Homo sapiens: one gene and its partner. The protein of the gene in region 2 purifies or fractionates together with the protein of the main gene of each other region. This does not show direct contact. Each region holds a gene or a part of one and is shown on either strand. Other genes may lie near its edges. The genes, in order: NSUN2 and URM1.

What was found.
Region 1: the proteins of URM1 (region 2) and NSUN2 purify together in Homo sapiens (co-immunoprecipitation; one study listed by IntAct). This does not show direct contact.

The regions. Positions count from the first base shown.
Region 1 is NC_000005.10:6,619,523-6,623,339, forward strand, and holds part of NSUN2 (RNA cytosine C(5)-methyltransferase NSUN2), read right to left. Parts: intron 3,764-3,817; coding exon 3,692-3,763; intron 2,579-3,691; coding exon 2,494-2,578; intron 777-2,493; coding exon 584-776; intron 1-583. UniProt on the Homo sapiens protein: RNA cytosine C(5)-methyltransferase that methylates cytosine to 5-methylcytosine (m5C) in various RNAs, such as tRNAs, mRNAs and some long non-coding RNAs (lncRNAs).
Region 2 is NC_000009.12:128,374,057-128,377,873, reverse strand, and holds part of URM1 (ubiquitin-related modifier 1), read right to left. Parts: intron 1-3,817. UniProt on the Homo sapiens protein: Acts as a sulfur carrier required for 2-thiolation of mcm(5)S(2)U at tRNA wobble positions of cytosolic tRNA(Lys), tRNA(Glu) and tRNA(Gln). Serves as sulfur donor in tRNA 2-thiolation reaction by being thiocarboxylated (-COSH) at its C-terminus by MOCS3.

The DNA of each region.
Region 1 (3,817 bases), on a different chromosome or scaffold from region 2:
CTTGTTACTCAGTTATACCATGAGTATTATTTTATATCTAAACTCTAAATATCTAAAATGTTGATGTATTATCTCAAGAAAGGTATAAAAACACAAGCAAAATGAATTTCTTAAGGGCTTGAACTCCGAAATTTCTTTCATTCAACTAAATAACATAAAATCCAATGTGATTACGTATTATTTTATGACAAAGTTTTTTATATACTGTACTCACTGGAAGAACTAATACAAAATAGTTGGGGTGCACAAATTGTTCCAAGCAATAACATCCTAAAACACACCACAATAAGAGTCTACGATTCTATTTTCCTCTTACGTATTTTCTCTGTTTTGTTTTGTTTTCTCTTTATCTTTCTGCAGGCTATTGCAACCACCCCTTTCTGTTCTTTATCCAGCATCTGCTGTGCTGCTTCTCATTAAGACGTATCTACGTGTCCATCTTTTGGTTTAGGCTCACGCTATCTTTCTCCGCACCCCAAGACTTATGTACAATTGTGTCATATTCATGCACAACTTCATTTTAGTCTCTATTTGACTTGATTTCTTTAGTGGATTTGGGCTTTTTGGCCAATAAGATAAATACCTGCAAGGGACATCACATAAAATTCGATCATAGAAGAGGATCTCTTTCCTGCCGTCCACATCTATCTGGAGCCTGGGTATGCTGGAGGCATCATGGTTGACCACCATGATGCAGGGGCTGCTCAGCCTCTTGGCTTGATGGACGAGCAGGTAGCAGCGCTTGTTGTCCACATCATTCGCAATAACAAATCCCTCTGAAGGCACAGAATTGCAGTGTCAGGTGAAATGGAGCCTAAGTGGAATCACATCCTGAAATATGCGACCTCCAAAGGTCAGCCAGTGAGAAGCAGCAATCCACCAAACTTAAGACCCACAGTCAAGGTTTTCCAGAATTACGTTAAGTGGTTCAAAAAAAGGAACCAGGTGGCTCTGGATGGATTTTATGGACACTCGAATTTTGAAAGCCTCAAAAGTCATCTATTCAACAATTATTCACTTTGTGCCAATTACCATGCCAAAAATGTCTTTTCTGTTATTAGTAACGATTAACTACAAAAAAAAAAGATGAGGAGAAAGGTGTAGAAACAACAAAATCACCTTACAAATGTTTCAAAATCCTGAACACAAGCCGGGACCCTGCTCTGACTGTGAGTCAGGCTCCTAGGGTGGGGCCCCAAGCACCTGAACACGGAAGCTCTTCCCGGGAGGCTCTGCAGGCTGGGAAGTCTACTGGGTGTACCTCTGCTCATCTCTGGTTCTTCTCACACCCCCAGCAAAAAGGCAAATATACCAACAACATGTATGATCAAAGCCACTCTTCACAACAGTATGAAATGCAAAACATCCACAATACAAAAAGGAGAACCTGCTGCTACTGGGACGCCAAGGCTCTTTACTGCCAATGTGGAGAAAACAACTAAAAACAGGGAAAAGTGAAGCAGGCTTTTTAGCCAAGGCATTATCTTTAAACAATGTAAAAAAGAGGATTTCAAAAAACAGACCTAACAAATATGCCTATTAAAACAGAACTAGAGAAGTTTGCCTGAACAAAGATAGGACGAGATGAAAGCTGACTCTAAAACATCACGATGGGTATTTGTTTCCACTTAAGAGAAAGGGGCGTGGTGTCACTATAACAGCTAACATTTCCTGAGCACCTCGCAAGCTACATACTGATTCGTCCCATTTCACATGGGATGTCTAACACTGTAAGTAACTTGCCGATTAGGATTTGAACCCAGGGAGTCTGATGGTAGCTTTTAACTACACACTACTACCCTTCATGTAAGGCAGTAAGTAATAATAATAATAATAATAGTAATAATAATGAACAAAGGTGGGGGAAAGGGGAAATTGTTACTAAAAATTCAAACAGTGAAATCTATCTTCTGTAAGTAGGCTTGATAAAGAAACACCATCTGCAGCCGGGCGTGGTGGCTCACACCTGTAATCCCAGCACTTTGGGAGGCCAAGGCGGGCGGATCACGAGGTCAGGAGATCGAGACCATCCTGGCTAACATGGTGAAACCCCGTCTCTACTAAAAATACAAAAAATTACCCGGGCATGGTGGCGGGCACCTGTAGTCCCAGCTACTCGAGAGGCTGAGGCAGGAGAATGGCGTGAACCCAGGAGGTGGAACTTGCAGTGAGCCAACATCACGCCACTGCACTCCAGCCTGGGCAACAGAGTGAGACTCCATCTCAAAAAAAAAAAAAAGAAATGCCATTCGTTTTTATAGAAAACACACATAATTCTAAAATAAAGCTCCCCCATGGTATGAGTGTGTTTGTTTGAGTACTACTGACGGTGGTAGGCAAGATGTCCAGTTCTACTTCCGGTAGACGGAAAACCCAACTGCTTGTCATAGGAGACTTTAGAGCCAAATTAGCAGGCAAAGTTAGAGTCTTTTCCTTGTCTACAATCTGCCAAAGTGGCATTCCTACCATTTTGAACACAAGTCCAATGCATACCTGGAAAGGGGACATTCATGTCGGCATGTAGCATTTCAATTAACTGTGTGGTCTTTGAGCCAGGTGCTGCACACATATCTAAGATCTATTAACAAAGCAAGAAACTGTTTCATGTTTTTAAAAAACCAAATATTCTACATTTAATTTAAAGCAATTCTAGTTTTTCAATTTCTAGTCCAAGATCTAAATATACTTCTTTACAGAGTCTATAGCATGACATAATTTACTTTTAGGGATTCTACACTGCCCCAAAATCACAGAATGATATAGGTACAGTCTCCAAAGAGGATGGGAGGAGAATGAAACTGTAAGCCAGAGAGACTAAATATAGAGATGAACAAGTAAGAATCATGAAAACATAATGCTAAGGAACAGAGCTACCTAGACTCAAATCTCAGCTCAGCCAGTTAACAGCTCCGTAACCTCAGTTCAAGTACTTCTCCTTGCTTCCTTTTCCTCATCTGGAAAAATGGAGATGGTGACAGTATCTGCCCTTAGAGGGTTGTGTGAATGATAAAGCCAACTAATTCACCTAAAAAACACAGAGCAAGGCCAGGCACAGTGGCTCACACCTGTAATCCCAGCACTTTGGAAGGCCAAGGCAGGCGGATCGCCTGAGGTCGGGAGTTCGAGACCAGCCTGACCAACATGGAGAAACCCCGTCTCTACTAAAAATACAAAATTAGCAGGGTGTGGTGGTGCGCACCTGTAATCCCGGCTACTTGGGAGACTGAGGCAGGAGAATTGCCTGAACTCAGGAGGCGGAGGTTGCAGTGAGCCAAGATCGCGCCACTGCACTCCAGCCTGGACAACAAGAGTGAAACTCCATCTCAAAAAAAAAAAAAAGAAAAGAAAAAAGAGCACAGAGTAATGCTTGCCATACAATGAGCTCTCAATACATGTTCACTATCATTTTCAACCTAATTTAGCCAATCACCATCACTGAAGACAATCCATATGGTAAACAAATCAGTAAAACTAAAGGGGAGAAAATTTTCTAAACCATAAAAATTAAGTAGGACAAAAAAGAAAAAAAAAAAAAAAAGAAACTAAGATACGTACATATCACTCTCTATCCAAAGTGAAAAGAAGAAAAAAAGGACTAATTATATTAAGAAAAAATGGTTTCATCAAAACAAACAGGCATGACACTGGTAACAAGCTGCCCGCCCCCACGTTTCTAGTTGCTATATGCTACCTTATGATGAGGCCGCACGTTGAGGAGCAGTGGTGGGATCATGCTAACAGCTTCTTGACGACTAATATTTCCCTTGAGGAAAAAAAAAAAATCAGCAACAATTAGGAAAAAAAAAAAAACCGCAGA
Region 2 (3,817 bases):
CCCTTTCTTTCTTAGAGACAGGTTCTTACTCTGTCGCCTATGCTGGAATGCAGCAGTGCAATCATAGCTCGCTGTAACCTTGAACTCCTGGGTTCAAGAGACCTTCCTGTTCAACCTCCCAAGTAGCTAGGACTACAGGTGCATGCCACCATATCAGGCTACTTTTTATATTAATATTTATGTTTATATTTAATTTTATTTTACTCTGTTTAGTCTCACTCTGTTGCCCAGGCTGCAGTGCAGTGGTGTGATCTCAGCTCACAGCAACCTCCGCCTCCCAGGTTCAAGTGATTCTCGTGCCTCAGCCTCCCGAGTAGCTGGGACTACAGACATGAGCCACCACATCTGGCTAAGTTTTGTATTTTTAGACAGAGGGTTTCACCATGTTGGCCAGGCTAGTCTCAAACTCTTGACCTCAGGTGATCCGCCCACCTTGGCCTCTCAAAGTGCTGGAATTACAGTCATGAGCCACCGCGCCTGGCCCATATCAGGTTAATCTTTAAATTTTTTGTAGAGATGGAGTCTTGTTATGTTACCCAGGCTGATCTCAAACTCCTGGCCTAAAGCAATCCTCCCACTTCAGCCTCCCAAAGCACTGGGATTACAGGCACAAGCCACTCTGCCCAGACCCAGTGACCAATTCCTAAATATGACTTCTAATGTGGCAAGGTAGGATATAATTTTTACTAATAATCAAGTACCGGCTAGGTGTGGTGGCTCACACCTGGAATCCTAGCACTGTGGGAGGCCAAGGCGAGATGACTGCTTGAGGCCAGGAGTTTGAGATGAGCCTCAGTGAAATAGAGCCTTGGTGACATAGCAAGACCCTGTCTCTATGTAATTATTATTATCATTAGGCACCCGGGAAATTATTATCTATTTATTTTTGAGACAAGGTCTTGCTTTGTCACCCAGCATGGAGTTCAGTGGCACAATCACAGCTCACTGCAGGCTTGACCTCCTAGGCTTAAGCAATCCTCCCACATCAGACCCCCAAGCAGCTGGGACTACAGGTGCATGGCATCACACTCAGCTAATTTTGTACTTTTTGTAGAGATGGGATTTCGCCATGTTGCTCAGACTGGTCTCGAACTCTTGAGCTCAAGTAATCTCCCTGCCTTGGCCTCCCAAAGTGCTGAAATCAGAAGCATGAGTCACTGTGCCTGGCCTATTTTTATTATTTTATTTTACTTTTTAAAAAAATTTATTTATTGAGACAGAGTCTCGCTCTGTCGCCCAGGCTGGAGTGCAGTAGTGCGATCTTGGCTCACTGCAACCTTCGCCTCCTGGGTTTAGGCAATCCTCTGCCTCAGCTTCCAGAGTAGCTGAGATTACAGGCACGTGCTACCACACCTGGCTAATTTTTGTATTTTTTTTTAATAGAGACAGGGTTTCACCATTGTGGCCAGGCTGGTCTTGAACTCCTGACCTCGTGATCCACCTGCCTCAGCCTCCCGAAGTGTTGGGATTACAGGCGTGAGCCACCGTGCCTGGCCTATTTATTTATTTTTTGAGACAAGGTCTCACTCTGTCACCCAGGCTGGAGTGCAGTAGCGTGATCTCAGCTTGATACAACCTTAACCTCCTGGGTTCAAGCAAACCTCCCACATCAGCCCCCAGGTAGCTGGGACCACAGGCACGTGTCACCACACCTGCCTAATTTTATTTTTATTTTTTGTAGAGACAGGGTCTCCCTATGTCGTCCAGGCTGGTCTTGACCTCCTGGGCTCAAGCAATCCTCCCAAAGTGCTGGGATTAGAGTTGTGAGTCATCATGCCTGGCTCTGTCTCTAATTATTTAAAAAGAAAAAAAAAAAATCAAGTACCCAAATTTGCCGACTCTTGTTTTTACTCCTCTGCCTTCTAGAGAGGCAGCTTACCACACAGGTGCAGAACACAGCCTTTGGAGCTGCCGGCCCCGATGTGAAGCCCAGGCTCCACCTCTCCCTATGTTGAGACCTTAGATGTGTGACTCAATCTTCTTTTTTCTTTGTTATTAAAATACTTTGGGGGCCAGACACAGTGGCTCACACCTGTAACTCTAGCACTTTGGGAGGCTGAGAGGCGAGGGAGGATTGCTTAAGTCCAGGAGTTCAAGAGCAGCCTGGGCAACATGGCAACACCTTGTGTCTACAAAAACTACAAAAATTAGGTGGGCATGGTGGTGTGCGCCTGTAGTCCCAGCTACTTGGGAGGCTGAGGTGGGAGGATCACCTGAACCTGGGAGGTTGAGGCTGCAGTTAGCCAAGGTCATGCCACTGTACTGCAGCCTGGGCGACACAGTGAGACCCTATCTCAAAACTAATAATAATTTAAAAATATTTTATAACATAGTGAGGTCTCACTCTATTGCCCAGGCTGGTCTTGAACTCCTGGGCTCAAGCAATCCTTCTGCCTCAGCCTCCCAAAGTGCTGGGATTATAGGTGTGGGCCACCATGCCTGGCCTTGACTCAATCTTAAGCTTCAGTCTTTCCATCTGGAAAAATGTTGGGGAGCCACTGTGAGGCACTCTGGAGACCCTGTGCATCTAGGGGTTTCCTCTGGCCAGATGATGGTTTGAATGCTCCTGCCCATGCCACCTGCTGCTGACCTGGTGGGTACATCACAGTGCTGGAGGCTGAGAGAGTCCATGAGGCCTGGCATCAACTAAGAACAACTGTTCACATCGCCTCACCATTTATAAGATGTTCCTCATCTCATTTCATCCTCAGGGAGTCCCAGGGAAGAAGGAAGGAGGTAGATATTATTTGCTCACTTTGATAGAAAAGCAGACTCAAGCCTAGAGAGGTTAAGCAACCAACTTGTCCAAGGTTAGAGAGGCAGGGGCTGAACTATAATTTCAGTCTAACTGATTCCTGCTTAGCACCAGCAGACTGGTCAGAAAAAAACAGGACTTCCCAAAGGTCAGAAAGCCTCTTGAGGGCAGAGTTTGGTTCATTTCTGTGTCCCAGCACCTGGCCAAGGGAAGGCGGGGACTGCAGAGATGATTGGAGCCAAGTCCAGAAGCTGAGGCTTCTGAGATGAGCGCCAGGGCTCTTTCAGCGCCCCATGCTGCTTCTCCCTCTGGGTCTCCCAATTCCCATCTCAGACTTCTTGTGGATCTTAACTGAAAAGGCCTCACCAGACTTTTGAAGAATGAGATGTCTTCCACCCCACCACCCTTTCCCAATTTCAGGGAACAGAGATGTCCTGAGACAGCCCGCTGGGAGGCAAAGGCAAGGCAAGCATTGTCATGGGGAAAACATGGGGCGACTGTCATCCAAACAAGGTCACGCTTTGTTGATGCAGAAATGTGGAGGGGGAGAGGAGGCCCATCTGTGGCCGCGCACAGGGCCATTTCAGCTGCAAGCCTGCACAGAGCCTCCATTTATTCCCTTCCAAGAGCCTCGTTTTCTCCTGGGTGGGGGGTTGGCACATGCAGCAGCTGGGGTGGGGGAGGGTGACAGGCAAGGGGCTCAGGAGTTGGGGGTCAGAGAAGAGGGATGGGAACTGAAGGCACTGGGACTTAGGCAAACAACCAAGACTGGCCAAACCTGGTGGTGCCAGGCTCAGAGGCCGAGGCTGTTTTTCCCTTTACAAGCGGATGAAGGGAGAACCAGTCTCGCTCAGAGAGTGACCTGTCACTGCTGAATTCACTGGCCCTCAAGGGAGGGGTTGGCATTTCTGCTGTCAGCACATCTGGAGTGGGGGAAGGTGCATGCCCAGCCTCAAGAGTGATTCAGGGAGGCAGACAAGGGGCCTGTTCTAGCCCAGGAGAGACCAAGGCCAGACTCTCTTATGTCTTATAAGATCTGCTATTCAAACTCAACTGACATAT